Regions from separate parts of the Homo sapiens genome. Here region 2 is linked to region 1. Evidence: fine-mapped expression QTL. A gene starts in region 1. The other region holds a variant in brackets. All regions are shown on one strand. Distances are from middle to middle.

What was found.
Region 2: its variant is fine-mapped to the expression of CDK18 in cerebral cortex (GTEx, PIP 0.95).

What each region holds. Positions count from the first base shown.
Region 1 is chr1:205,497,533-205,512,396 of GRCh38, forward strand. CDK18 (cyclin dependent kinase 18) reads left to right here and starts at 7,137. Exons shown (of 16, transcript NM_212502.3): 1 at 7,137-7,264. RefSeq lists enhancers at 9,061-9,714, 12,571-13,118, 14,116-14,730.
Region 2 is chr1:205,523,843-205,538,706 of GRCh38, forward strand. CDK18 (cyclin dependent kinase 18) reads left to right here. Exons shown (of 16, transcript NM_212502.3): 4 at 390-515; 5 at 1,297-1,353; 6 at 2,223-2,337; 7 at 2,525-2,619; 8 at 2,933-2,995; 9 at 3,952-4,075; 10 at 4,206-4,326; 11 at 5,157-5,254; 12 at 5,482-5,587; 13 at 5,679-5,721; 14 at 6,417-6,507; 15 at 6,786-6,863; 16 at 7,502-8,948. The coding sequence ends at 7,536. Among named protein-coding and RNA genes, the nearest start is that of CDK18, 27 kb to the left of the region's middle. RefSeq lists a silencer at 5,291-5,410 and an enhancer at 12,595-13,096. The variant G/C (reference allele first, on the strand shown) is at 4,794.

The DNA.
Region 1 (14,864 bases):
GAATTCATTAAGGGTGTACACAGTGTTCCTGACGGCAGCTGTGTTTGCTTTCTCTCCAGGGAGGGGGTTGGCAGTGGGCAGGAGGGAAGGGCCAGGAGACCGGCACGGTCCTTAGCTCCTGCCTCCTTTCAGCTCAGCCAAACAGCTCAGCAGCCACCAATTCTCCCAGTCTCCCTCTCCCGCCTTCCATTCATCCCTCAGCCCACCATTCAGGCCTCTGCCCTACTCCCATCTCCAGAATTGCCCTTGTTAAAGTCACCAATCTAGGGCTACCAACCATCTCTGTCTGCCCAGGACTTTCAATGCTAGAACTGGGAGAATCCCAGGCAAACTGGGCCTATGGCCACCCTACCAATGGCTTCCTAGTTGCCAAATTCAATGATGTCTTTCAGTCTTGCTCTGTGGGCACCTCCTGACTCCCCTTTCCTTTCCAACACCTCTCTTCCCCTTGCTCCTGTCCTAACTTCTGGTCTGCTTGTTCTCTTCTTCCTTCATCAGCTTTGCTTCCTCTGCCAATTCAGTTCTGCTGTGTCGGTTCTGTAGACCAGTGGCGCCTAACCTTTTTGGCGCCAGGGACCAGTTTCATGGAAAACGGTTTTTTTCACCGACCAGGCAGGGAGATGGTTTCAGGATGATTAAAGCGCATTACATTTAGTGTGCACTCTATTTCTATTATTATTACCTTGTAATATACAATGAAATAATTATACAACTCACCATCATGTAGAATCAATGGGAGCCCTGAGCTTGTTTTCCCGTAACTAGATGGTCCCATCTGGGGGTGATGGGAGACAGTGACAGATCATCAGGCATTAGATTCTCATAAGGAGCATGCAACGTAGATCCCTCACATGTGCAGTTCACAACAGGCTTCGTGCTCCTATGAGAATCTAATGCTGCCACTGATATGATAGAAGGCAGAGCTCAGGTGGGAATGTGAGTGACTGGGAGCGGCTGTAAATACAGATGAAGCTTTGCTTGCTTGCCTGCTGCTCACCTCCTGCTGTGTGGCCCAGTTCCTAACAGGCAGCCAGGAGTTGGGGACCCCTGTCCTAGACCCCGGTGAGCACCTGATATATACTAGTCCTGGGCATACAAAGGCTAAAGATGTAGTCTCTGGCCACGGGAAGCTCTCAGCCCAGTAAAGGAGGAAGACATGGAGCCCCCAAGCACTGGGAGGCACACAGTGAGAGAAGTATGTCGAACAGACAGGCTTCCGACTGGGGAGTGGTCAAGCCTGTGTAGACAACACTGAACCTGTGTGTGTCAAGGAGGCAGTGACTCTTGAGCTGGATTTTGAAGAATGAATAGGAGTTTACTAGGTAAGTGGTGAAGGAGGGAACCTCTCCTATAGATGGGAACATGTGCCAAGGCATGAAGCAGTGAAACATAGTGGTGTGTACAAGAGAAGTACTCATAGTTTGATGTGGCTGGACACAACAAGAGAGGGAGAAAATCAGGATGAGCTGACGAGGGAGGCAGGGGATCCATATGCCATAAGGGAGTCTGTGAATGAGCACAAGGAGGCCCATAGCTCATGAAAATGAACAGAAAATGTTGTGCATATGTGTTTTGATTCCTCAGATTTCATCAGATTCTGAAAGAGGGGTTGGGGACTCAAAGGCCTCCTGTTGGGGAGCTACTGGAAGCAACTGGGCAGAGGAGGAGCCACTGGCAGATTGGCCAGTGGCTAAGGTTAAGGCCTCTCTGGCATCTGTCTGAAGGAGGGGTGTGGGGCCTGGAAGCTAAAGGCCAGTGGGCCAGTGGGGCCTGCGGGTTCAAACCATGGCCTTCTTCCTTGGCCCTGAGCAAGGTCTTTCCCGGTCAGCCACCTCCAGAGCACTTGTCTCCAGGCCCATCCAACAGGCCTCTGGAGCATTTCTAAAAGTCTTCACCAAGATGTTCAACTGGCTCCTCAAGGGCTACCTGGCTACAGCTGAAATCAGCACCTGTGCTTGGCCCATGGCAGATATTGAGTAACTACTTTCAAACTGAACTAAGATCCAACTGTCCAATGAACTCATGAGCTGGGTTTTAGGGTTTGGTTTTAGGTCTTCCTGGGGATCAATCAACTCTCTTGGTCCAAAAGTCTCAAAATTCTTAAGGTTTCCTGAAAAGAAAATCTACGGTTCCTATCCCTATCTATTAGTTGAGAAATAATTTCATTACATTTCACTATAATCCAAGTAGGAGTCTTTGACCCCATTCTCTAGGTGAGCAAACAGAGACCCAGGGGTAAAGAATGGGCTTAGAAAGCCCAGGTAAACCAGCTGTCTCTCCTCTCCCACCCTGCATACGGGTCCTCTCAGTGGCCCACCCCAGCCAGTGTGGCCTGCAGCCTCACCCCAAAGACTCTTCTAGTCTTGTTCCTAAGGACCACTTTCCCATTTACACCAGCTTTGTGTGGTGATTCTGTTGTCATGGCAATGCATCAACCTGAAGGGGGTGGGGTGTGTGTGTGTGTGTGTGTGTGTGTAAGTTTGGAAGGCACCGCTGGATGTAGTGGTGGGGTTCTAATTGGTTTGATAGTTGCTAGGGTCAACTGGTCTGTGATTGGCTGACTCTATTTATGGGTCCACCCTGTCCTAGAACCCTCTGGGGATGCAGCTGTTGCCTCATCTGAAGTCTAGAATGGTGTGTGTGTGTGCGTGCATGTGCATGCACATGTGTAAACACATGCATAAATGCACACATGCCTGTACTTTCACCACAAATAGCGAAGGGAGGATATGACACTTGGTGAAGTGATAAAGCAGAAAGTCCCAGGCTCTCTGCTGGAATCACACTGCTACAGGTAAATGATATTTTTCTCCTAATCATCCCCACTTCTCATAAATCACTGGAAAACAATGGCCTAGGTTTAGCCAGAGGAGGAGTAAGAATTGGCTCAGTCTAGCCAAGTCCTGCTGTCCCAATGACTCACAGACCTCTAACTAGCTAGGCCATAATGGGTCAGTCCATCTTCAGGTCTCTGCTGCCAATCTCCCTCCTGCCTGCCAAGGGCAGGCTGTTGAGGTGAGTTTCTCTGTTCTCACTTAGCTTCTCATTTCTCATGTCTTTACTTGATTCCTGGAACCCTAAAAAGGGCCCTCTGGACAAACACTAATGATCTCATACACATGCAGGTCGTTCTACAGTGTGCAAAGCACTTTCACAGTCACCTTTGCATTTAGTTCTCCCATCCTGAAAGATAGGTATTCACACTATTCCCCTTTTGCTATAGAGGAAAACAGAGGCCCAGAGAAACAAAGTGATTTCTGCACCTTAGGGGCGGAGTCAAGTCTCCGGCCTCCCAAATGTCCCTGCAGTGCTTTCAGAGACTGTGCCTGCTCGGATATAGGGCCAGAGGGGAAGGGAGCCCCTGACAATGTGCAGAAAAGAGATTCTCTGTTGGCTGAACTCTCCCTGTCTGGATGCTGTGCCTCCCAGGGGAAAGTGGGGCGGGCTTGAACTTTGGTTTTTCAGATGCTATTCAAATGCACTGCCCACACAGTCTGCGAGGGAGAGCTGTTTCCAGCTTCCCTGCTCAGCCCTCAGGCACCCAGGGACGCCTGTCCTATCTGCAGAGCAGTGGCATGTCACTGGCAGCGAGGAGGAGACAGGAGCAGAGTGGGCAGTGGGCTGAGCTGCTGCTGGGGCCACCATTGTCATGCTGCTCAGGCCTGCCAGCATTACACTGCTACATGGCTAGGGTGACCAGGGCCTCCCGGGGATGCCACAGATCCATTAGACTAGCAGAGGGGAAGGGGGCTGCAGGACCCACAGGGGATGGGCCCCAGGGGCTGGGGTGCCAGGGAAACCCCCAGCTGAGGGTCTGTTGTCTGTCCCTCTGCAAGGAGGGAGTTAATGGGCTGCAGAAAAGAGAAACAGCATTGATTGGGTGCCAAGTTTACATCCTATTGAAACCTCACAACAGCCCCATGAGAGAGGGACTATTACCATCTCCATGTTATGGACAGGAAAGGAAGTCAGATATGTCAGTAACTGCCCAAGGTCACACAGTTTACATGGCTTTAAAGCTCAAAGTATTGCTTGGTAAGGCAGCAGGGAAGGAGCCCCTCCTTAGTGGAAGTCCTAGGTAGTGCTGCTTCTACTGTGTTTGGCTTATTGCAAGATGCACAGAAAGAAAGTTGGCATCGGAGGGCAGGGGACACCAAGGGGTTCAGAGGGAATTTTTGAAATGGTACAGATGAGAAGCAGAAAAATTAGGCTGACCCAAAGAGCACACATACACAGGCCACTGATGTGTATGACTGGGTATCATGGACTCCCTATCCAGCTAGTAAGCCCTGCCCAGGGTCACTCTTATCTGGTTCCCCCCTCCCACCTCCCATCTGCACTTGCCCTTTCCTGGGGTGGCCAAAGCTTGTTGTGCCATTCTCTGGGCTCCATATAGATGCCCACCTGCAGTTCATCCTCTTCCTTCAACCCTGAGAACCAAGACGATGCTTCAAAACTGAAGCTTTCAGAGATTCTGAAGCAATCCCATGTGGTGGTGGTGGGGCAGGGGGTGATGTGACAGGCTCTGAGCAGGTGGCTGGCCCTACATCATTTCAGCTGTCATCTCTCCTCTGTGGAGCTGTCCCAAATTCTCTTGGGCAGAGTTAAGGGCTTCTTCCTCTGCTCAGCCCATATTGCCTTGGTAGGTGACTGCCTCTGCATATCTTTCTCCACCTGAACAGTGAACTACATGAGAATAGGAACTGAGACTTAAAATCATCTATCCAATGCAAGGATCCAGTATAGTCCTTGTCACATAGCAGGTGTTCAATAAATGTTTGTTGAATGCATGAATGATGGTAATTATATTTACTATCTATTGAGTTCTCCATTATGAGCCAAGTCCTATGCCAGGCCCTTAGCATACATTACCCTAATATGTACAACAACCATACAAGATTGATTTTAGCAACTTTGTTCTACAGATGGCCTCAGAAAGCTTAGTTCGCTTGCCCAAGTTCACAGAGCAATCTAAGGAGGTGCTGGGAATCAAGGCTCACTTAAGAAGCTCCAAGGTCCCACTCAGCCTATCACATCAGTGCTTCTAATCTTGACACTGTTGGCTCCCTTATCTTCTAGAATCCAATAGTCACAAGGCTCCATGACCCTGTCTCCTACCTATCTCTCAAATCAGTTCCCTCCTCTCCTCCCTGCTGCCGCTGTGTGGTCTAAGCTCATTCTCATTTTCCACTAGGATCAGCCTCCACGTTGGGGGTCTTCAGGACCCAGCACCTGCCTGCCTCTACAGTGTCACCTCCACCCCAGACTTTAAGTTCTGACCTCATGGAACTGTGGGTCCATATTCTGTCACCCCTGCACTCTGCACAAGGGATTACCCCTCCTGGAAAAAACAGGGAAAATCCTTCCTCCTCTCTCTTGTCCCCTCATCCTGTAACCCTCACCTCAAGCAGAATAGCTCCTCCCAGGCATCCGTAACACTAAGCCTCCTCCTATAGCATCCTAACTGTTTGCTTCCCTGCCGCATTACACCAAGAGCTTCTTGAAGGCAGGGACTGGGTTATACTCATCTTATGTGCCCAGAGCCCTGGCTATCATTTGGCACATAAGAGATGTTGAGAAAGTGTTTGTGGAGACCTCTTGACTTCACCCCCCTAGTTCCTTGAAATTCTACCCTTTGGCCCCACTCTCTCTAATCCGCCAGTAAACAGTTCCTTGGCCATAGTCCTTCTCCCTTTCCCTCCCTGCCCCTTCCAAACCTCTTTATGGCCTCCTGCTCCCCAGGCTTCTCACCATCCACTGGACTACAGAGCCAGGAGGTTGCTGCACACCTAAAGGCTCTGGATCCATGCACCCCGACAACACTTGGCAGTTTCATTTTTAGGAAGTGCTGTGCCCAGGAAATCTGCATGCCTTGGCAGAGAAAGCGAGGTAAAAAAAAAAAAAAGAGTTGGGAGGCCCTCTGTGAGATGTCAACTACCCACAGGTCACTTTCATGCATGGGCCCAGTGTCTTCCTTCATTCTCCTGTCTCCAGCTGACAGTGGGACCTCAGGCCCATGTCTTCCAGAAGGAAACTGTTCTATTCTCAACAACTCACAGTCCCCAGGGAAAGGGTTCAGGTAGAAGCACATGTACACTGTGGAGCACCCCCTCCTAAGGAGACTTTCCCTGTGGGAGACCCCAGACTGCAGCAGCCAAGCCCTCTGGTAGGGCAGGGGACACAGACTGCCTTGATGAGGTGCCATAGAGCCAAGGCACACCTCCTCTCCTCACAGCCCTCAGGAGGAAGCAGAGATGAGAGGGGCCTGGCGGTGGGGCACTGTGCCCTTCACCCCCATCCCCAGATTTTTGTTTTGTTTTTTTTTTTGATCCTTGAAGTCAGATGATGTGGGTGCAATGGCCATTGGCCTGAGTTCTAATCATGGCTCGCCATGAACTCTTGTGGCACTTTAGGCCAGTTCAATTGCTTTGCTGGGCCTCAGTTTCCCCTTCTGTAAAATGAGAGTGCCACTAGCTGAACTAGCCATTCTGTAACCCTTCTTGGATGATTCTCAAATATCCTGTGGAGTTTAATTCCAAAAGGACAAGTTGAATTATCCTTCGGGGAGGGAAATGTGAATGATGGCTGGTAACAAGGGCTTCATTCAGGTCCTGGAGAGGTGGGAACTTTGTCCGGAAAGGTAAGTGACAAGTCCCACTGGATAGGGTAGAAGGGGAGCCCGAGGGCTACTATTGTCAAGAAAATGACCACCAAAATCTGTCCATGCACATTCGTTCCTAGGGCGCCAGGTACAGGGAGGTACCTAGGAGAGGTAGGAGCACCGCTTTTAGAGACAGGCAGGCACTCTCAGTGTACCCCTGGCGCCTTGGTGTCCTGGGGTGATCCAGTCCAGAAGGCCTCATCCCCTAGCCAAGGCTCTCAGGGCCGGTTTTAGAAACGAAACAGGAAGAGGCACTTGGACCCTGGTTCCCAGAGTGGGAGAAAGGGGTGGGCACCCGGGCAGAGGGAGCCCTGGGGATTGGTAGCGGCTGTGGGCAGGGCGGGAGGGCCGGGGGCGGAGTCAACTTGTACATGTGAAAAACTCTGGCGGGGGCCGGGCATTTTCCTTCCTCCTCCTCCTCCTCCTCCTCCTCCCTCCTCTTCCCCACCTTCCTCCACTCCCTCCCTTCCCCTCCCCTTCTACCTCCTCCTCGGCCAGCTCAGGTTGCAGCTTCTCTGGGGAACTGCTCACCTTTCCGGAGCAGGGGAAGCTGCCCCGTGCCCGGGAGGGAGCGGGCGCACCGCGGCCCCCAGGACACGCGCTGTGAGTCCCGCGGGCGGTGCGCCTGGGAGGAAGGGGGAGGTCGGAGGAGCGGGCACCGCGGCGCCGGGTATAAGGAGCAAAGGTAAGCGGAACGGCTCTTAAAGGCGCAGTTTTGCTTTTGCCCTGAGGCGAGAGGTTGGAGGGAAATACCGGAGCGGCGAGGGGAGAGCAGAGATCACGAGGCGTGATCTGTGTGATACTGTGTTGTGTGTTGAGGGGTGGGGGGTGCCCTCGAAAGGCCACTCGTAAGTTCCAGGTGCTTGAGAGGGAGGGTTATTTTGCAATCTCAGACCCCGCGCCCCCTTAGGGAGTCTCCATCTGGGATCACTTTGGCCCCTGGGCTCCCGTCTGAACCCTACAAAGCAAAGTTTTCCACCCAGTCCGGAACCAGGCGCTTTCTAAGCTCCCTTCATTCTGGGAAGGGCAAGGGTCAGGAGTCTCCAGGGACCAAAGGACCCGAGAGTGTGGGGCCACATCGCTGCCTTGAAGGGCTTCCTGGGCTCTGGTGAACTTTCCAGAGCGGCAGGCAGGGGGTGGGAGGCCGGAGCCCTGGGAAGAACGTGGAAGGACACGTGAAGCCCTGCAGGTCCCAGTTCTGGGGGAGGCAGGGGTCTGGGGAATGCTGCTGCTTCTCTCTTTCCACCCCGGAAGACCAAAGGGGCAGTGCCCCCCTCCACCCCTCATCAACAGGCGACAGAGGGTTAATGCAGCAGAGGGAAAGGAGGCTGGGTGGGGCCGGGGGGAGTGGGCGGTGACCTGTTGGGCTAAGGAGATGTGCCTTGAGGATTCTGCTGTAGTTGAGGGACACCATCAGGAATCTGAAATCCAAAATCGGGTCTGGACTGGAGGCCTCTGTTTTCGCCCTGTGGGGGGCGGGGATTCCCTGAAGGTGTCTGCAGACCTTGTGCTGGGTGGGAGTTGGGCTGCAGAAACAGTGAGGGGTTTTCTGTGCTGCAGGGTCAGCACCCTCCTAGGCACCAGCCCTGCCTCTCTTCATTCTCTCTGGGCACCTCCCGGCAGTCGGGGTGGGAGGATTGACACTGTGGGAGTGAGAGGCCCTGGAACCTCTTCCGCGCTATCTGCTACTGTCTCCCCTTCTTCCCCACCCCTAGCCCAGCCCTCGGCAGTTCCCCAGCTGTAGCCTGGGCCCTGTGACTCACTAACACCACCGGCTTGCCCCTCCTGTGTCAGCACCCAGTGAGCTTCGGCATGTTCGCGTGGCATTCCCCACCCGGGCATGGGCATGCAGCACATTCCTGGACACGGGCCTGAGAGGATGCCTGGAGCGCCTGGTGGACTGGCACGTCCTCAGAGATCCCCTGCCTTTAGCCTGGCCTTGGGAGGGGCCTGGGAAAACGGTGCTGAGGGTGCTGAGGGTCGGTGGAGTACAGGGCGACACTGGCTCCAGGTCCGGGTTTGCATCCTGAAGGCGTTCCAGAGAGAGGGTCACCTTGCCACAGCAAAGCTGCTATCTCGGGTTACCCTTTCCCAGCCACCTCTTGTGCAGCTGAGGAGGCTGTGGGGCTGACCCCTCCCCCACCCTTAATCTGGGGTGTACCTGACCATTGGGTTCCCAGGACTCTCCCCACTGGGTCCCCAGGACTCTCCCCATACCCTGCCAGGAGAATGGAAGAAGCTCTCCACGCGTGCCAGAAGAAGTTCTTCCCAAACTTATCGGGGGTGCCAGAGGCAGAGTAGACAAGCCTTAGTGGCCACCATTTGTTGAATATCTACTGTGCGCCAAGCAGTGCGTCACAACTTTATGAAGTAGGTATTATTATCATCCCCATTTTACAGGTGAAGAAACTGAGTCTCTGAGAGACCAACTTTTCCAAGGTCACACAGAGGTGGGATCCAGCCCACTTCCGTCTGACCCCAAGCCCCTGCTGTTAACCCCTGCCCCATTGTGGGGAGGTTCCGGCCCACTCTGGAGTTCTCTGGTCTGCGTCAGTCCTCAGGAGAAGAAAGAATGGGGGTGATGCTCCAAATATTGAGGCTCCCATCTGTCTGTCCTGCACTAGGCAGAGCCAGGCTTCTCCATGGGGCACAGGAGAGAGGGCACCAGATCTGAGGAGCAAATAGGTTCTTGGTCTGAGATCTCGTGGGATCAGGTTGCCAGCCCTGCAAACCCCCGCTCAGGTCTAGAGGACATGGAGCTGCCTTTCAGGGTGCATTTGCTTCCTCTACAGACTCGGACTCTGTCCTCTGCCTACTTGGGCCGTCCCGCACTCGGGAATGCGTCCTACACTGTAGGGCAGAGCCCGGCTTGACTCTTCCCGGTTCCTACCCTAACCAAGCCTCTACTTTCTGGGATCACCCTGTTGGGACTTTTGTCCAGCATCTCCATCTACCTGTCCTCTGATTCCTTCTGTTCTTCTCTAACTGAGCTTGAGAACTAAAGGGGAGGGCAAACTTCTGGCCTTGGTGGAATCCAGCTCCAGCATATAGTAGCTATGTGACCTTCCCCTCACTAGCACACTCGTGAATTTCTCCCAGCATCCGTTCCCTCATCTGTAAAATGAGGATCATAATAGAGGGCTGTTATAAGATTTAGGCTGGGTGCGGTGGCTCACGCCTGTAATCCCAGCACTTTGGGAGGCCGAGGTGGACGGATCACGAGGTCAGGAGATCGAGACCATCCTGGCTAACATGGTGAAACCCCATCTCTACTGAAAAAAAAAAAAAAGCACAAAATTAGTCAGGCGTGGTGGCAGGTGCCTGTAGCTACTCGGGAGGCTGAGGCAGGAGAATGGCGTGAACCCGGGAGGCGGAGGTTGTAGTGAGCCGAGATTGCACCGCTGTACTCCAGCCTGGGCGACAGAGCGAGACTCCGTCTCAAAAAAAAAAAAAAAAAAAAAAAAAAAAAATAATGCACAGTGCCTGGCATGTAGCAGAGACTAAATAACTGGTAGCTATAGTGGTTGGTGGTGCTTGTTTGGAAAGGGAATTTCCTGGTGATTGCACCAGGGCTGGTCTAGAGACCAAGGTAGATTTTCCCAGCCCCATCAGGCCAAGCCCTTAGTTAGACAGAATCTTTACTGCTCTTCCAGGTTAGGGAGGAGGGCTCTGTGTAAGAGAATGGTGGTGGTGGTAGGGGAATGGGTTGGATGGAAATCTTCCAGGAGGGGCCAGGAATCTGTGCTGTGGGGGCCCTACCTTCTGGCAGTTATGAATGAGGCAGGCACTGGGAGCTGGAGAGGCAGCAGTCTCTTGCTCTGAGGGCCCTCTGGCAGCGCCTTCTTTCCCTGAGGTAGGAGGACCCTCCCCTGGTACTTAATTAATTGCAGTCCCTGTTCTGCTCTGTTGTTCAGGGTGAGTGGCTGGCCTGGTTCCAGGCCCACCTGATTAGCCCACCTTTGGCAATAAGTCACATTTCTCTTCCTCGGCTCTGTGTCCCACCATAACCCCTTACGTCCCCTTCCCTGGACTTTTCACCTTTGCCCTCCAGGCATTCCCTGCTGAGTGGGCACTTTCCCACATCCAGGGGGTGGGAGCAGACCAAGGTTAATCTTGTCCTGGCTCCCACAGCTGCTTACACACACACAGCTGCATGCACATGCACACACAGGCTGGGCTCACAACAGCTCAGGCCAAGGGTCTGGGATCCAGGATCACTACAGAGCTGGTAGCTGGGCCTGGCTGGAGCTGGCCAGTGGTTCAGCAGCAAGTCTGGAAGAGGAAAAGCCGTGGGCGCATCTCCGCCAGACCTCCTGTCTGAAAGAGAGCCCATCTGCTCCTAGAATCTCCACAGCTACATCTGCAGAGGAGGAGGGGTAGTGAGGCAAGTGTGAGGTTTGGTTTTAAACTGAAAAGGGAGGTGGGCGGATTGCTTGAGCCCAGGAGGTCGAAACCAGACTGGGCAACATGGCAAGACCCCATCTCTAAAAAAATACAAAAATTAGCCAGGTGTGGTGGCACGCGCCTGTAGTCCCAGCTACTCGGGAGGCTGAGAGGGGAGGATCGCTTGAGCCTAGGAGGTTGAGGCTGCAGTGATCCATGATTGCATCACTGCACTCCAGCCTGGGCAACAGAACAAGAACTTGTCAAAAAAAAAATTGAAAAGGGTCTTAGGCCGGGTGTGGTGGCTCATGCCTGTAATCCCAGCACTTTGGAAGGCCAAGGCGGGTGGATCACTTGAGGCCAGGAGTTTGAGACCAGCCTGGCCAACATGATGAAACCCTGTTTCTCCTAAAAATACAAAAATTAGCTAGGCATGGTGGCGTGTGCCTGTAATCCCAGCTACTCGGGAGGCTGAGGTAGGAGGATCGCTTGAACCCAGGAGGTGGAGGTTGCAGTGAGCCGAGGTCGCACCACTGCACTCCAGCCTGGGCGAGAAACAAAACAAAACAAAACAAAAAACGGGTCTTGAAGCAAAGCTCCCTGACAGCATGAGTAACCCTGAAGAGACTGGACACCTTGCTCTGGGAGACATGGGCCAGAACTTTTGAAAGGACTATGATGAGATCCTCTTTCCTGGAGCTCTTGATAATGGTCCCACCCTCTGAGCCTCCCTACCCCCACCATTAAATAAAAGTCTTCCCTAGAAATGGTGGAGTCGGGATAGACAAGATGACCCAATAATGGCTGGCTGGTGCACTCATCATTATTTATATGTTGAGTGTATGTCTCCTGTCCACCATGGGTGGAGGCAATTTATGGACTTTGGGGTCAGTTCAGATTCTGCCTCTTCCACTCAGTAACTGGTTGCCTTAGGTTAAGTAATTTGCTCACCCAGGTTTCAGTTTCCTCATTTATAAAATAGGAGGATAATACTATTATCTCATGTGATTGCGAGGACTCCAGTGAGATAATGTCCACCTAGTAGCTCTTTGCTTTACCTGATGTCATTATCAAGGGGTGGTGGCAGAGTTAATGGGCTACATTTGGTAGTTCTCAGTGCCTTTGGCCCCACTTGATATTTTTTTCTGAAATCAGGGTCCCTGCAAACATCAGGGATCAGCCCCCAAATTGGGAAGAGAACTCTATTCTTAAAATGTTTCTGGCCAGGCACAGAGGCTCACACCTGTAATCCCAGAACTTTGGGAGGCCGAGGTAGGTGGATCACCTGAGGTCAGGAGTTCAAGACCAGCCTGGCCAACATGGCGAAACCCCATCTCTACTAAAAATACAAAAATTAGCCAGGCATGGTGGCAGGCACCTGTAATCCCAGCTACTCCAGAGGCTGAGGCACGAGAATCGCTTGAACAAGGGAGGCAGAGGTTGCAGTGAGCCAGGATTGTACCACTGCACTCCAGACTGGGTGACAGAGCAAGACTTTGTCTCAAAAAAAAAAAAAAAATTTCTACCCTCCCTCACTCTGAACACTGTTCCCCATCTTATCATTATCGAGGGAAATTCAGAGCTCCAGAATGATTACTGCCCTCACACCTTGCTTCCCTAAAGAAGCCTGCCCTTTTCTGCCTGGGGAGTCTCCTCAGGAACCAGACCTTCTTCTCTTCTCTGGCCCCAGCCACCCAGCACCCTGGGCTGCGGGGTGACCAGCCCAGGAGGTGACAGGGCTGTCCTTCCCACATCCTGGCAGGACCCACTGCCTGGAAGCAGGTGGGCGGTAGGTGTTATGCTAGAGGGCATCACTCTTGACAAAGCAGCACTGGCTCCCAAACTCTGCCTGCAACATGGGATGAGCCCAGGAAAGGGGTCACAGAGCCCCTCCCTGATCCTGCCGTGGAGCCCAGCTGGCAGCATCCCCTGCCGTGGCTGGGCTGGGTGCCATGTTCTGTGTGGGTGCCAAACCTGGCATGGCTCCTTCCCAAGGAAGGTGGCCCTTGGGGATGCTGTGACTTTCTTGGCTGTGGTGACCAATAAAGGGAGTGCCATCTCTACGCAGGCCCATGCAGTCCCTTCCAACCCTGCACAAAGTCAGAAGCCCAAAGTGTGGTCCCAGCTCTGCCCTGTCACCCTCAGTGGCCTCGGGCAGATCGCTCACCTTTCTGAGTCTTGCCTTCTTTGCCTGAAACATGAGGGTGCAGACCAGGGGATTTCCAAAGGCCCCTCTGAGGCTGCTGGTCTGAGGCTCCGACTTTTGCCTGTCCTGCTAACAAGGTGAGCTGTGTGCTGGGGTCCCAAGAGGGGCTCAGCCTCCTGTTCCTCCAAACTGTAGAGCCAGGGGCTTGCCCCAGCTGATGGCTGGGTACCTGGTCCCTGCCATGCTGAGATGGGCAAGGAAATCCTGGAATGCCTCAGCCCTGTCAATTAGGAGGAGAACAACTACCTCGCAAAGAAATGGATGCTGGATTCAAACACTACACAGGCACTGGATGCTCAAGGCTAGGGGTTGGCAAACCATGGCTCTTGGCCAAGTCCCGACAGTTTTTGTATGGCCCATGAGCTAAGAATGATTTTTACATTTTTAAGCAGTCGGTAAAAAGTCAAAAGAAGAAAATAAAGTTTTGTGACCCTTAAACATTTTATAAAATTCAAATGTTAGTGTTCATAGTAAAGTTTTACTGGTGTGAGGCCAAACTCATTCATTTACATCTTGCCTGTGGGTGCTTTTGTGCTGCAAAGGCAGAGTGGCAGAGTGGCGACAGAGACGATGGCCCGCAAAGCCTAAAATAGTGGCTGTCTGGCCTCTTACAGAAAAGGTTTGCTGACCCCTGCTCAAGATAATCATAGTTCTCTCCAGGCCTTGCACTAAACTGCTCCAGGATCTCAATCTAAAAGTACTTTCTTTTCATTTAAAAAGAAGTGTTGCTATTTTCTTCTTATGTAAGCAATAAATGTTCATTATGGAAATATTAGAAGATGCAGATAAGCAAAAAGAAGACATTAAAATCACCCATAATTCTATCACCCAGGAATAACTACTGCTGGTGTTTTGACTTACCACCTTCTGGGTTATCTAACAGTGTGCTGTGTTTATATGTGCATGCCTGTGACACATGTGTATATCCTGCATACGTACAGCTTTTACAAACTGTACACATCTGTCCTCTTCACTTAAAAACACATCTTGGCCAGGTGCGGTGGCTCACACCTATAATCCTAGCACTTTGGGAGGCCGAGGCGGGCGGATTACCTGAGTTCAGGAGTTTGAGACTAGCCTGGGTAACATGGTGAAACCCCATCTCTACTAAAATACAAAAAATTAGCTGGGTGTGGTGTCGTGCGCTTGTAGTCCCAGCTACTTGGGAGGCTGAGGCAGGAGAATTGCTTGAACCCGGGAGACAGAAGTTGCACTGAGCCAAGATCACGCCACTGCACTCCAGCCTGGGTGACTCCGTCTCCAAAAGAAAACACACACACACATACCTCTAACTGAACCCTTGGGGGACACACAGGCAGGGTGCCCAGAAGGCAGCTGCACCCAAGCATCTGGAGCTGAGGGGCTTGGTGGGGCCAGGGCTACAGATCTGGAGTCATCAGCACGCGGGTGGTGGTTTCCACTTCGGGAGGGGATGAGGTCACCCAGGAAGCATGCCCAGAGAGGAAGAGCAAAGGGCCAAAGAGAGAATTGTGGGAGTGTTGACATTCAAGGGACAGGTAGAGGAAGTAAGTCCACCAGACCCGGGAGGAAGGAAGAAGCAGGAGGAGACCCAGGCAGCCAAAGGGAGTGGAATCCGAGGCCCAGGGCCCAGGA
Region 2 (14,864 bases), 26 kb after region 1:
AAGTGCTTAGAACATTCCTGAATTTAGCAAGGGCTAGACAATTTGACTATTTGATCCACACACATATGCCCAAGTATATGAAAAAATATACTTACAGAATCGGTGCCTGTAAGGGCATGAGACTGATGTTGCACAGATGGTGATACTGTGGCCCAGAGAGGCAGAGAGTGACCTGGCTGTGCTAAGGTCACACAGCAGCCCCGGGTGTTCACGTGTATGTCTTGAGCACACACTGGGAGCAGCTGTGAGCCTGGGGTCACAGCCTGTGATTGGGCTCTGAATGGTTGTTCTGCAGGGAACGCTAGGTCCAGAGTGAAAGTCTGGAGCCCCACAGCCCTAGCTACCCTGAAACCAACAGTGGTGTCCCCATCTCATCCCTGTCACCACAGGACGTCAGCAAGAGGCTCTCTCTGCCCATGGATATCCGCCTGCCCCAGGAATTCCTACAGAAGCTACAGATGGAGAGCCCAGATCTGCCCAAGCCGCTCAGCCGCATGTCCCGCCGGGCCTCCCTGGTGAGTCCCAAGAGGGTCAGAGGACACAAGGTGGGGTGATATGCCCTCCCCAGCATGGGCATATCAGTCCCAGCTGAGGCCTAGATGGGATTTCGAGGAAGATTCCTGGGCCTCTGGTGCCACCTGCTGGCTTGAGTGCATTCAACTAGCTCGTCCTCCTACATCAACATCCATTTCCTAGATGGGTCTCACTTGGGCTGGAATGGGACTCTAAGCCCACAGTGGGTCCCACGGTCTCCACATGGTTAAGATCAATAGGCCAGCTGGCATGTGCCTTCCAGTCCTAACTGCCTATCAGAGCTGTTTGGGACATCTTACAAAACACAGACTCTACCTCCAGACACCTATAGAATCAGCCTCTCCGGCTAGGGGGTCCAGGAATCCGTCTTGTTAAGGGTTGGATACACCTGAGCTAGAAGTGCGCTGATGAGAGACACAGTCAGAGAGGTGGATTCTGAACTGGACACTCAAGGTACAATGGGAAAAAAGGCAGCACTCACTCTGGAGGAGCTCGTGGTCTCAGTCGGAGACACAGGTAGTCAAGATGTGCAACAATCCCAGGTGCCACAGCTCTGGGCTCTACACTCTTGGCTGTCCTGGGAGGAAGAAACTCACACTTTCACGAGCTCTGTCCTTTATCACAGGGATAAAGGGAAAAGGAGCCCCTTCCACCATGGAGTCTCATCCCTTCCCTCCCAGAGGCTGGAGTTGGGGGAGGCGTCATGTCTGTGGAGCTGCTAAGGGCTTCAAGCTCACGGCATTCTATGTCTCTCCCTCTCAGTCAGACATTGGCTTTGGGAAACTGGAAACATACGTGAAACTGGACAAACTGGGAGAGGTAAGACGCTGGGTTTGGTCTTCTCCGAATAGCCAGGCAGGATGGCTTGGAGGAGGGGCAGACCTCCCTAGTCGGCCCTCTCTGGTCGGCCCTCTCTGGTTGGCCCTCTCCTGGCCCCTGCCCCATAGAGGTGCACAGTCTTGGCTGTGCGCTCTGGCCCAGGCTTTGGCAGGGATTGAAGTGAGCTCAGATCCTGAAGGAGGGCGTGAGGATAGAGTAGCCATGGCCCTGGGCAGAATCCAGTCTTTTTTTTTTCTGCAAGTCCTTCTTGCCTGGGTTCAAAACCTAGCTCCACCATTTACTAGCTCTGTGACCTTTGGCAAGTTACATGACCTCTCTGTGTGCCTCAGTTTCTTCCTCTGTCCAATGAGACAGTAATTGTCCTATCACATAGGGTTATTGTGAGGATTGGGCAGGTTACTGTAATCAGCTTATGTACGGCACACAGACAATGCCTGGCACATAGGAAGTGCTGTGTCACTTAGCTATTTTTGTTGTCACTGTGCAGAGGCCTGGGGTGGGTGAAGGTTTATAGAGAGAGGGAACACACAGCCCTTTCCCTCCAGGAGCCCAAAGAGGTGACCTCTGTGTAAACATCAGCATCGTATAAGGAAGAAAAAACCTGGTGTTATCATAGACGGGCACGCGGCGTGCTGGGGCTTAGAGGAAGGACGGATTCACTCCGACTGGGGAGTCATTAGGGATGCTTCCTGGAGGAAGTAGGCTTTGGAGGAAACAGCATGTCAGTAAAGGGAGGAAGGGCACTCAGGCCCCAGTCGTAGCCCAGGCAGAGGCACAAATGGGGAGGCACTGGACAGAGGCCAGCAGCACCTGAATGCGCCTGGGGCCGCTGTGGCCCTCCATCCCAGGGCACCTATGCCACAGTCTTCAAAGGGCGCAGCAAACTGACGGAGAACCTTGTGGCCCTGAAAGAGATCCGGCTGGAGCACGAGGAGGGAGCGCCCTGCACTGCCATCCGAGAGGGTACAGCATCCTAGGCTCCCACGCTCCCCTGGGGGCTTCAGGAGGAGGGGTTCACCAGCCTGCACCCTTGTGGGAGCTGGGGGTAGAGGATCATTGCTGGAATGGGACTCCTGGCGCTGACCCCAAGAAAAGAGGGTATGGGGACACATGGGGTCCTAGGGACCCAGGTGGATCTGTCTCCTCACAGTGTCTCTGCTGAAGAACCTGAAGCACGCCAATATTGTGACCCTGCATGACCTCATCCACACAGATCGGTCCCTCACCCTGGTGTTTGAGTACCTGGTGAGAGTCCGGCTGGGGCTGGCCGCCTCTCCCTCTTGTGGTGGAAACGGGGTGTGGGTAGGGGAGTGGGAAGCTGAGGGAGTGGGAGTAGTGGGATGAGGGCGACCCAGGCCTTGTTCTGGAATCAGATTTTCAGATGCTCCCGTGCAGGAGTGGGCCAAGAGCTCAGGCTTACGGGTGGCTCGAGCCAGGGACCTGTCCCACTAGTGGGCGTGGGCCCTTCCCAGGGAGGGGCTTCCTCTCCTCAGCCTGTGTCTGGGCTTCTGGCCAGGGGTCAGCGTGGGGCAGGACTGAGCCACGCTCTGTGTTCCAGGACAGTGACCTGAAGCAGTATCTGGACCACTGTGGGAACCTCATGAGCATGCACAACGTCAAGGTGAGGCCTCGGGGGCAGGGTCCCCCCATCTTGGCAGCCACCTGTCCAGAAGCCCAGTGTGGGGACCCACTCTCACCACCAGGGATCCGGCTGCTGAGGTGGCTCAGACCTTCCCACGTAGGAAAGAGGGAGAGGGCAATGCCATCAACGAGTCCAGGAACTGGGTTGAGCGCTTTACCCCAAGAACAGACACACACTGTCTGCCACTGTCTAGCTGTTGGTATAAAACCCACTCTCAACTCTGAACATCAGTTTCCCAGTCTGTCAAATGGGAGTGTGAGCTACCTGCCAAAATGCAGGGAGGCTTCTGGGGAAGCTCGGGGTTATGAATGACCTCTCCTGGTGTTTGTTAAAGAATCAAGGCTGGGCATGGTGGCCCACGCCTGTAATCCCAGCACTGGGAGGCCAAGGCAGGAAGATGGCTTGAGCCCAGGAGTTTGAGACCAGCCTGGGCAACATGGCAAGACCTCATCTCTACTAAAAATTGAAAAATTAGCCGGGCACAGTAGCGTGCACCCATAGTCCCAGCTGCTTGAGAGGCTGAGGCAGGAGGGCCACTTGAGCCCGGGAGGTTGAGGCTGCAGTGAGCCATGATCACACCACTGCACTCCAGCCTGGGTGACAGAGTAAAACCCTGACTCTAAAAGAAAAAAAAAAAAAAAAGGGATCAAGCACATATGTCTCCACATAGGCGGGCATCCTGACCCCCGTGCTCCTGACTGAGACTTCGCTGGCCTCCCCCACACTCACTGCGTCCTCTGCACCCCTGCTGTCCTCCCCTCTGGATGGGATTCCCTGGTGTGGGTGGGGTCCAGGATGGGGGCTGCAGGGTGTGCAGGAGAATGAGGGGCTTGTGCTGACCTCACTGCCAAGCCCCTGCCCCCATCCTGGTCCCAGCCTTGGAGCAGAGGCTCAGGGCCACCTTCCACCCCACATTTCTCTTCCCCCTCCCCCAGATTTTCATGTTCCAGCTGCTCCGGGGCCTCGCCTACTGTCACCACCGCAAGATCCTGCACCGGGACCTGAAGCCCCAGAACCTGCTCATCAACGAGAGGGGGGAGCTGAAGCTGGCCGACTTTGGTGAGGCTGGGGCTAGGGTGGGGGTCTGACGCTACTGGGGTGCCTCAGGGTGTGGGTGCAGTGGGGGAGGGCATAGCAGTCAACCCCACAGCACCTGTGGACAGAGGTCCAGTGACATGTCTGCCCCCAGGACTGGCCAGGGCCAAGTCAGTGCCCACAAAGACTTACTCCAATGAGGTGGTGACCCTGTGGTACAGGCCCCCCGATGTGCTGCTGGGATCCACAGAGTACTCCACCCCCATTGATATGTGGTGAGTGAGCACTGTGGGGACCGAGGAGGGGAGGACAGGCCTGGCCACACCTCCAGACTCTCCTTTGCTTCCCCAAGGGCCTCGGGGAAGAACTGCCTAACTTCCTTTGCCTAAAAGCCTTGTGACATCCTGCTGAAATGGATGTTAAAAAATTAGGTCTGAAATATAATAGGTTAGGGTTTCCCTGGCTTAAATAGACCCCCAAGCCTGTGCATTTGAAATCCTCCCCCAGAGGCCTGTGGGGGGTTACCAGAGACCCAGAGGGTCCAGGAGGGCCCCTATAGTAAATACGATGAATCTTCCCCAAGCATCAGTCCCAGTGAAAATTTTGAAAGAGAAGTACTATTTTTATGTTAAAATGAACAAGTGTATGATTTGGTGTAAAATGAAAAATCAGCCCAAATTGCAAGCCAAGCCGCCGGTGGTTATGAATGGCTGCTGTGACTCCGCCCCAAGGTTCCCCAGGA[G/C]AATGGATTTATGTACTTCTCTTCCAGTGGGGCACACAGTGGAGAGAGTTTGAGACAACACTGCTGAGAGAATTGCCACATGGGCGCTGGCTGCACAGACCCAAACCTCACAGAGTGAAAGGGGACTTTCCTCACAGAGTGAAAGTCGCAGCTTTCCCGAGCCCAGGGAAGCCCCCCAGAGAGGGGCTGTAGTGGGGGCTGGGCAGTTCTAGGAGCCTCCACTGCCCTGGGCCACCCCTCCGCCGCCAGAGCCACGATCCCTGCAGCCGCCTGTGGCAGGTCGTCATTGGTGCCCTGGTGGAGCAGCCCTAGGAAGGGCGGCCGCCCCTGCCTGATGCCGACCCTACCCCTTGCTCCTCGCAGGGGCGTGGGCTGCATCCACTACGAGATGGCCACAGGGAGGCCCCTCTTCCCGGGCTCCACAGTCAAGGAGGAGCTGCACCTCATCTTTCGCCTCCTCGGTCAGTCTCCCGCTGCTCCGTCCCTCTCACCACCAGGGGGCGCCGGAACTCCTCCAGCCCAGGCGCGGAGCGGGACGGGGAGGAGCGGCTCGGCCGCCTCTCTCCCGGGCGGGGACCCCCTGTGGCCTCGGCCATCTTTGCTCCCACCTCATACATTGCATCCCTTTCAAGTCGGCCTTGGCCCTGGGCCTCACGCAGGCCCTCCCCACCCTCTCTCGTCTCCCCAGGGACCCCCACAGAAGAGACGTGGCCCGGCGTGACCGCCTTCTCTGAGTTCCGCACCTACAGCTTCCCCTGCTACCTCCCGCAGCCGCTCATCAACCACGCGCCCAGGTAGCCCCTGCGCCCGCCGCCCCTCCTGCTGCGGCCCTGGCTCTCCCATCCCCAATCAGGCACAGCCTGTGTCCGCGCCTTCTCCTTGCAGGTTGGATACGGATGGCATCCACCTCCTGAGCAGCCTGCTCCTGGTGAGTGTCCTCCCGGCGGGGCCCAGGGAGAGGCAGCCAAAGAGCCAGGTCCCTGTGCCCCATGCCGGGCCTACGCCCCAACTTCTGTGGCTCGTGTGCTTACACGTCTTTGAAACATCTCCCCTGTACTCTCCACCCCCAAGGCCAAGGGGTGGCCTCCATACACATCCTCTGGAGTCTGTGCACTGCGAGCCCAAACCCGTTACTTAGCTGTGTAGCTCTGGGCAAGTTACAGAGCTCCTCCATGCCTCAGTTTCCTCAGCTGCAAAGTGGGATTAATACCTATTTTATAAGATGGCCGTGAGGATACATTGAGATGACGGGACACACTTAGTGTGGTGCCTGTCTTGTAAGGCACACGATGAAGGGTTGTTATCGGCACTACGCTTCCTGTTACGGATGTTCTCCATCTGATCATGGTTGGTTTGCATCTGTATTTCTATCCCAAGAGAAGGTCACTCTCCTGAAGTTTCATTTCTGGTTTTTCCTGGTGGCTGGAGACCGAGGAGCCTTCCCCTGAGTCTTGAGATGGCCTGAGGTTGGGTTTGTGGTAGGGGCTGGAGGCTGACCTGGGGCTTCTCCTGTTAGCCTCAAGCCTCACCCACCTTGGTGCTCTAACCAGCACTGGAGTCCTGCTGCCCAGAGGGTTTGCAGCCCCCCAGCCGGGCCCAATAGCCCCACCCTGTGCCTTTCAGTATGAATCCAAGAGTCGCATGTCAGCAGAGGCTGCCCTGAGTCACTCCTACTTCCGGTCTCTGGGAGAGCGTGTGCACCAGCTTGAAGACAGTGAGTACTGGGGGTCCGGGAGCAGGGCCACCCAGAACCAAGGAAAGGGGTTGGTGAGTGTGGGCAGAAGAACCAGAACAAAGAGGCCAGAGGCCCCAGCCCCAGCAGAGCAGCCCCGGGCACCTTGCCTCCCCTGCTGGGGTTCTCATTCCAAATTGAGGGGGCAAACAGTGGAAATGAGACGCTGCCTCGAGGGCTCAGTTGGTCCTTCTGGGCCAGTCCTTACTGGAGGCCAGCTCCACGCAGCCCTCTCCAGACTATGCACTTCTCTCCCCCAGCTGCCTCCATCTTCTCCCTGAAGGAGATCCAGCTCCAGAAGGACCCAGGCTACCGAGGCTTGGCCTTCCAGCAGCCAGGTAGGGGCTTGTGCTCTCCTGGACCCCTCCCCTTGTTAGTGGAAGCCAGAGCAGGCGACCCCTCCCCAGTGGGGACTCCCATGGTCCCCCCACCACTGGCTTCCCTTTGGACTCTTTGGGGAGCAGAGAAGGGGTTGGTTTCTCCTGCCTAGACTTCCTCGTCCAGCTCTTCCCTCCTCAACCCTCCACCCCAGACAGGACATTGCATTTGACAGTAGCCCTGGCAAAGAGGCATGCTGTCTCTGGTGCATTCTCTCTGCAAACCCTGAGCTCTCTAATCAGATTCCATCCTGGGAGAACGGTACTTTGTTCCTAGAACAGTCAATGGCCTTGGACATTGACAAATGCTTTCCATGCATCGTCTTCTTTAATCCTTAAAATACCCCTTGAAGCTAGTACTATTAATATTCCCCATTTCATAGTCAATGAAACTGAGGCTCTGGGAGGTTAAGTCACAAGTTCATGCAGCTAGTAAGTAGCAGAGATGGGATTTGACACCAGGTCAGACCGGCTCCTGTTTGCATGCCCTTGCTTGCTCTGTCAGAGCAGCTCTGGGGGACAGCGACTGTCCCTGCTGACCTGGGGTACCCGTCAGCCCAGCCTCCTCCCTGCAGCCCCACCTCTTCTCCATTCTCCAGGACGAGGGAAGAACAGGCGGCAGAGCATCTTCTGAGCCACGCCCACCTTGCTGTGGCCAAGGGACAAGAGATCACATGGAGCACAAATTCGGGTAGGATGGAGCCTGTGTGGCCCTCGGAGGACTGAAGAACGAGGGCTGACAGCCAGCCTGGAAGACCGCTTGGCAGCCCTTCTGGCCACGGCTGTTTCTTCTTTGTGCTTCCCGTGTGCCTCCCCAGTAGCCCTCACCTGCATACCAACCCCTCCTTTACCCACGTTGGGGCTGGCATAAGCTGCTTCCCTGAGAGGACATGAGGGGGGGGCGGTCCTCGTACCCTCTCCCACCCTGGTGTTTGGGCACCTGCGTGGGATGCACACGGATGACAGAATCAAGGCGCCAGGATGGGCACTCTGCCCTGGATACAGGCTCTACCCTCCTCCCCCAGGACCTGCCTAGTGCCAGTTTGGTAGTCCCCCTTTCTGGCCCCTTGGAGCCCACACACGTTTCATCTTTTTCCCCTCTGAGAGCAAGAAGAGACATGGCATGTTCTCTGGGACCCTGGAATCCTAGGTACCCACATGTGTGCCAAAGCCTACCCCACCTGGCAGGTGTCCCACAGCAACAGAAGGAATAGTAGTCCCCACTCTTTCCATCAGCCCTACCCTACCCTCATTCCCCGACACCCTCTGGCTTGAACCATGGCTGAGCAGTGCCGGCATACGCTTTGCTGGCATGCTTGGATGCCCAGCTGTGTCCAGAGGTGGCCTGGGACCGCCAGTTGCACGCCTGCCACCTCAGCCAGCCCCCGCCCAGCTCATCAGTCTGAATGGAGTTGCCTTAAATTGGCAGGTGGTACCGTACTCACTGCCCTTGGAGCTGTGACCGGCTCCTGCCTGTCCACCCCTTCCCGAGGTGGCTCCTGCTTACCTTATCATCCCAGGGCTCTGATTAGCCAGGCCTGGTCAGGGTCCTGGGGACGGCACCCAGATATGCAGAGTCACCCTGACACTGGTGCCAGGCTGACCTCAGCTCCCGAAGGCTCGCACAGCCTCCCCATCCTTCCTTCCCAGCCCTTGTGGCTCTGTCCACCTGATCCCAATACCAGCTTCCCCCAGCCCCTGCCACCCCAGAGGGCGGCCACGACAGGGAGAGGTGTAGATGCCACCATCTGAGGGAGAGGAACGTGGAACAGGAGCAGGCTCTGATGCTGAGAGGCTTGCCTCCGGGGGCTGGAAGCCTGGGTGGCCGGGGCCCCTGAAGAAGGCTCCCCTCTGTATCCCCCAGGTCTCCTCAACACTGGGCTGATCCTGAATGGCACAGGCCAAGGGGAGGCCAGCCTCGCCTTTCTACCCAGGCCCCCTGCCCTGCCCACCTCAGGCCCCCACCCTCCACTCCTCCCCACGGTACTGTGAACGTCGTGTGACTCAGTGCAGAGACAGATAATATATTTAATTCATGTACAGAAAGGAGCGAGCAGTCTCGTACAGAAAAGCTGACTTTGATAGATTGATGCCAAAGATGGAGAACTGAAGTCCCCCCTCCAGGCCTAATGAGTGTGGGTGGGGTGTGCTTGTGTGTATGTGTGTGTGTGTGTGTGTGTGTGTGTGTGTGTGTATATATATATATATATATATATATATATAGTGAGGAGAGAGTTTGATTTGTGTGTATCTCTGACCTCCCCTACACCCCAGGCTGTGGGACGAGTGCCTAGCATTCACCTTGCTGTATCCTGGGTGCTGCTGCGTTCAGAGCCAGAAGTTGGCTCTTGCTGAGGAGCATCAGTGGTTGTTGTGGGTGGGCAGAGGAGTCCCAGGCCTGGGAGTCTGACCTGTGGCCTGGCATTGGCCCAAGTTGGTGCCTGTGGGGTGGGGCTGGCCAGGAGAGCAAAGAGGGACCCCTGGGCGGGGGTCTGGGGTCTGGCCGTGCAGCTAATCCCTGTGTTCCTGATGCCAAATGGCCCCCTGGCTTCTGGGGAGGGAGGTAGGCAAGATCAAGATGAGGTTGACATGGGAGATGGCCAAGGCCAGGGCAGCAGGACGAGGGTGTGGGCCTCACTGTAATTCAGGCTCTGCAAGAATTGCTGCAGACCTCGAATACACCTCCTGCTGCTGCCTAGACCGCCTCCCCACCTTTGATCTGGACACAACCCACCCCCGCAACACATCATACACAGCTCCCAAAGTGCTCAGAGTCCTGCTGTTGTCCAGTTCGGTGTCCAGGTTTGTTCTTCCCGAGACCACTCTGAGAATGCCAGGCCCGAAACCCTGCCTCCTGACCTGTCCTCATGCCTGGCCTTAAGCACTTTGCAGTTTGCCGGCATGGTTTGCAGTTACTTAAGAGGGTGGCTGCTTTCCAGAGGAGGAAGCTGATGCTGAGGTTGATGATGTCTCCCAAGGCTCTGGAAGTAAGGGGCGGGCCAGGGCTCCATTCTCAGCTCAGCACCAGTTCTACCGAAGGAGACCTCCTCACTTTGCTTGTAGGCAGCCAGACACCAAAGTAGGGTCGTAACTCAGACAATTAGTGCTTGAGGGGAGGAGAAGGGCTGGGAAATGCATTGGTGGGAATTGGAAACCAGACATTTATTAAGTTCCCTGCTGGGTGCCAGGCAGCCCTGTGCCCAGGCATTGTCTCACTGAATCCTCATAGAAACCCCCCTTTCTCCCCACTTTGCAGATGAGGACAGGAGCCTCCCAGGGGTAGCCTGGGGTCACATACCAAATTAGAATCCCAGGTGTCTGCCCCCCAGCCCTGTGGTCTTTAAGGAGTGGGAGGCGTGGGGAGGGTGAGGTGGAGATAGTGCAGAGGCCCTGGAGGGAGGAAAACACACAAGGAAGGATATGGGCAGATGCTGCCTTGAGGAGCACTTTGCAAGGCAACTCTTGTGGCAGGCAGAGGTGGCCCAGAGTCGCTGGGGGCAGCCGTTCTTGCTGCTGCAGCTGTGGCCCTGCTGAGGAGGCACACACCTAGGGGCTTCTGACATCAGGCATGCTGAGCTTCTGCCCTAGAAAGCTGCCAGGGCTGGGAGTGCCGGCCAGCCTGGGGGTGTGGAACTCAGCTGGACAGGCCTACACCAGGCCTTGGATATGATTGGTGCTCAAAAAGTGATGGCTCCGGAGAAGGAAGCTGGGTTCGGGTGTGAAGAGGGGCTGAGTGATTTTGGCCATGAGCTGCCACTGGGCTCCCAGGGACCAGGCTGAGCTACAACCCAACCCAGTGTCCTGGAGCCCTCGGTTTCCTGGGCACCCCTGCAATCATTTCCTTATGCCGGTGACTCTCAAAAACAGGAGCCTGCCCCATTCTGCTGGAATCCCCGGCCCAAAGCAGCCTTTTACAAGTCATTCCCCCTCAGGCCTCACTTGTCACCTGCCTGCTTCTGGGACAGGTCAGGAATATCCAGGGTGCAGATGCCGTCCCCTCCACCATGGCCACTTGGCAGGGGCATTTGAGGCATGTAGCAGCCCTGCAGCTTCAGACAAAATGTCCTATTTGCTGAACTCTACAGGGTGGGGGTGATATCAGCTCCTGTGCTTGGCACTGCCCACATCATCTTGCACCCCGGTGGGACCTGGAGCTCGCTCTCCCCTGCCCCACCCTCCTGTGGGCTCCCATTCACCCTGCCCCTACTCTCTGGGTCCAGTGGTCAGGGCTGATGTCTAATAGGCCACCACTCCTCTACCCTGCTAGGCCCCCTGGGTCAGCCAAGTGTCAGACACTGTTGCAGGCCTGCTCCTTTCCTCCCTTCTTGAAGCATCCCAGCCTCCTTTGGGCCATCTCCCCACCTCTATCACTGCTCAGACCCTTGCTTTTGGCCGTGACACTCTACAGCACCCCAGTGAGCCCCTCTATCTCCAGAGCAAATCATCAGCACCATGAATTAGCCACAGCCTCCTCCATGCCTGGCCCTGTGCTAGATGCCAGGGACACCAAGATGCATGACATTCCACCCCTACCTTCCAGAAGCTCAGACCTGCCGGCAGAGATGGCCTTGATTACAACAGGTTTTCTCAAGAACCCACTGTGCACCCGGTGCTGTGCTAGGCACTGAGGATACAGCCGTGAACAAGATGGCCAAGCCCTACTCTCATAGAGCTTATGTTCCAGTGGGGGGTATAAGACGTTATCCAAACCAACAGGCATATCAAGGGGTCATAAGTGTGATGAGACAAAATAAGGCAGGGGCAGGTTTGAGGGGGAAGAATGTGATGGCATAGGGAGGGGAACTGCCTGGTCAGGGAGGGACCTCTCCATCAAAAATGAGCTATGGGCTGGGCGTGGTGGCTCACACCTGTAATTCTGGCACTTTGGGATGCCAAGGCAGGCAGATCGCTTGAGCCCAAGGGTTTGAGATCAGCCTGGGCAACATAGCGAGACCCCGTCTCTATTTAAAAAAAAATTAGCTGGGTGTGACGGCTCATGCCTGTAGTCTCAGCTACTCAGGAGGCTGAGGTAGGAGGATCACTTGAACCCAGGTCGAGCCGCAGTGAGCAGTGATCATGCCACTACCATCCAGCCTGGGCAATGGAGTGAGACCCTGTACCAAAAAAAAAAAAAAAAAAAAAAAAAGTGAGCTATGTTGTGTAAGGGGGCCAGGTGGACAGCCAGGGACAGAGTATTCCAACAAAGGCCCTGAGGTGAACGTACTTGAGAATGAGTGAGAGGCAGTGAGGCCAGGGCACAGTGAGCCAGGCAGCATGGCAGGAGGGATGTATCATGTGGGGCAGTGGCTCTGCCCATTAGATCCACCTGGGAAGTGCTTAAGATCCACTGCCATCCGGCCCCAGCTCAGATTGATTCAGATGACCCTAACATGTATCCAGGGTTGAGAACCGCTCACTCGTGCGGGGTCTTGCGGGCTGTGGTACGGGTTCTGGATTTTATTCTGAGATGGGAAGCCACTGGCCTCTGTTTTTAAAGGCTCAGAGGGTCAAATAGGAGATGTCAGCCCCTATAAGGAGGGTGATGGGGCAGGGAGAGGAAGGATCCCCCAGGTGGTGGTAGAGCAGCAGCAGGTGTGGTGGGAAGGGAGAAGGGAAGCACCTGCTCTCCTGTGTTGCTGCGAGAGGGACTGTCATCCTAATCCCAGGGAGGGCCACAGAGGCTCTAGGGTTAGGTGACCTGCATGGCCACACAGGGAGTAAGGTGGACTGTCAATTACAACCCAGGTCAGCCTACCTGAGCAGCTGCCTCCGGGCAGGTGTGGGCACTGGCACGGACACTCCACCTCACTTGTTTGCATGGAGGATGGGCATCTGGTTTCCAGGGACTGGGAAATCCTTGCCTTCTGGTCACCTAAAAGCATTGTCTGACAGGCAGCCAGTTGACACCTGGGGGTTGGGCAAAAGTCACTATCCCCCACCCCACCAAGTGCCCCCTGAGTGATGACTCAGCCCCTCTTCCGGACCCTCAGAACCTCCCACCATCTGCCAACTAAAAGCATCATTGGGCACCAGGGCCCTGCTCCCGCCCTAGCTGTGGAGGCCCGGTGGCTGGCATCATTGCTGATGGTCAGTGCCCAGACTCCAGGGAGTGTGTGCCAATTCTCCTAGACAGGACGGGTGGGGCCAAGGGCAGCTCTGATGAGATTGCAGGTGCCACGTGGCCACTCCCGCTTCCTCCCTTGTTTTCTCCTCTTCCTTCTTCCTGCTTCTTTTTACTTCTCTCAGTGCCCCTTGGGGGCACTAGGTATTACTCAGTGGGCGGCCCTGAGTAATACTGAAACCCAGAGATCAATAATTTGACCCAGCCTCTTGTCTAAGGAAGGAGATTTTGCAGCCTCTCCCTTGAATCAACCCAAGCCTCCAGTCCCTGAGATGTGTTCTCAATGCCAAGCATCAACCCTTGCTCCTGCATCCCTGGGCCCTTCCTGGTGATGTGACGCAAACATGGAGAGCTGAAGCATGGACAGGGCGTGGCAGGGAGGATCCCCGCTGCCCTCCTGCATGTGGTCAGCACTCCTGCTTGCCCCTTTCTGGGCTAGAAACTTCTAGCCCAGTTCCTCATCTTCCTGTCTCCTCCAGAGCTCCTCCCTCCCTAATTTACTCATTATCCATCAGATGGTTCCAGACTCTGTGCCAGGCTCTGTTTTCAGTACCCAGGATACAAACTTGACCCTGACTTAGACCCCACTCCCAGGAGCTCAGCATCTCAGAGGCGGCTAGGATAATCTTTTCTTCCTCTCAGCTTCTTAAGGTCTCAGCTACTTGGGGGAAAGACAGTTGTCCATTAGTCATTCTATTAAAATTTCCTAAGGTTTTTTTTTTTTTCAAGAACAATAAAATGTTTTAATGTCCTCATGTTTTCCCTGGAGGAGAGATTGGCTAAGTCCTAGGTTCCTGGGAAGAAGGAATCTTGAACAACCAGGGAAATAACACACAGGCTCCAAAATCACAGACTTGGATTCAAATCCCAGCTCTACGGCTTGCAAGCTGTGTCACCTTGGGAATGTTCCTTAACTGCTCTGTGCCTCAGTTTCCCTCTCTGTAAAACGGAGATAGTGATAACACCTATTTCACAAGGTTGTGAGGATTTAAGAATGAATATTCAGGCCGGGCGCAGTGTCTCATGCCTGTAATCCCAGCCCTTTTGGAGGCCGAGGCGGGTGAATCACTTGAGGCCAGGAGTTCGAGACCAGCCTGGCCAACATGGTGAAGCCCCATCTCTATTAAAAATACAAAAATTAGCCGGGCGTGGTGGTGGACCCCTGTAATCCCAGCTACTTGGGAGGCTGAGACAGGAGAATTGTTTGAACCCAGGAGGTGGAGGATGCAGTGAGCTGAGATCGTGCCACTGCACTCCAGCCTGGGTGACAGAGTGAGACCCTGTCTCAAAAAAAAAAAAAAAAAAAAAAAGACAAAAAGAGAATGAATATTCAGGAGGGGCCTGACCCAGAGTGCTAGGTGAGTGAGCTTCACATCCTCACTCTGCACACTCCCACCCACTTCTCCACAAGCAGGAATTCCAGCTTCCTCCCTCCTGGAAGTAAAGTGGAAGATCATATGCTTTTATTTCTTGCATTCTTCACTCTTGATAAGATCTCAATCAGCAAGAATGTATTAAGAACATCCTACTTAAAAGATTTTGCAAGACTTTTAAAATGACCTCAGCCCAGAGTTTTTTCTCCACGGAAGCTTTAAACGTAGCTGGGGAAGTAAACATGGAAAGAGAATTTATGATAAAAGGCACTGGGTCAGGCGTCACTCAAAGTGGATCCGCTGCCTCTTGAGGTAGTAAGTGCTTTGTCCCCCAGACTGGGAAACCACTTGGGAATTCCAGGGGCATCACTGCCTCTGGTATGTCTTGCCAGGTTCCTGAGGAGCCAGCAGCCAGATCTGCACCTGGCCTGACCCTATTCCTTGGATCTTTCTTTTTTGCTGTGCGGA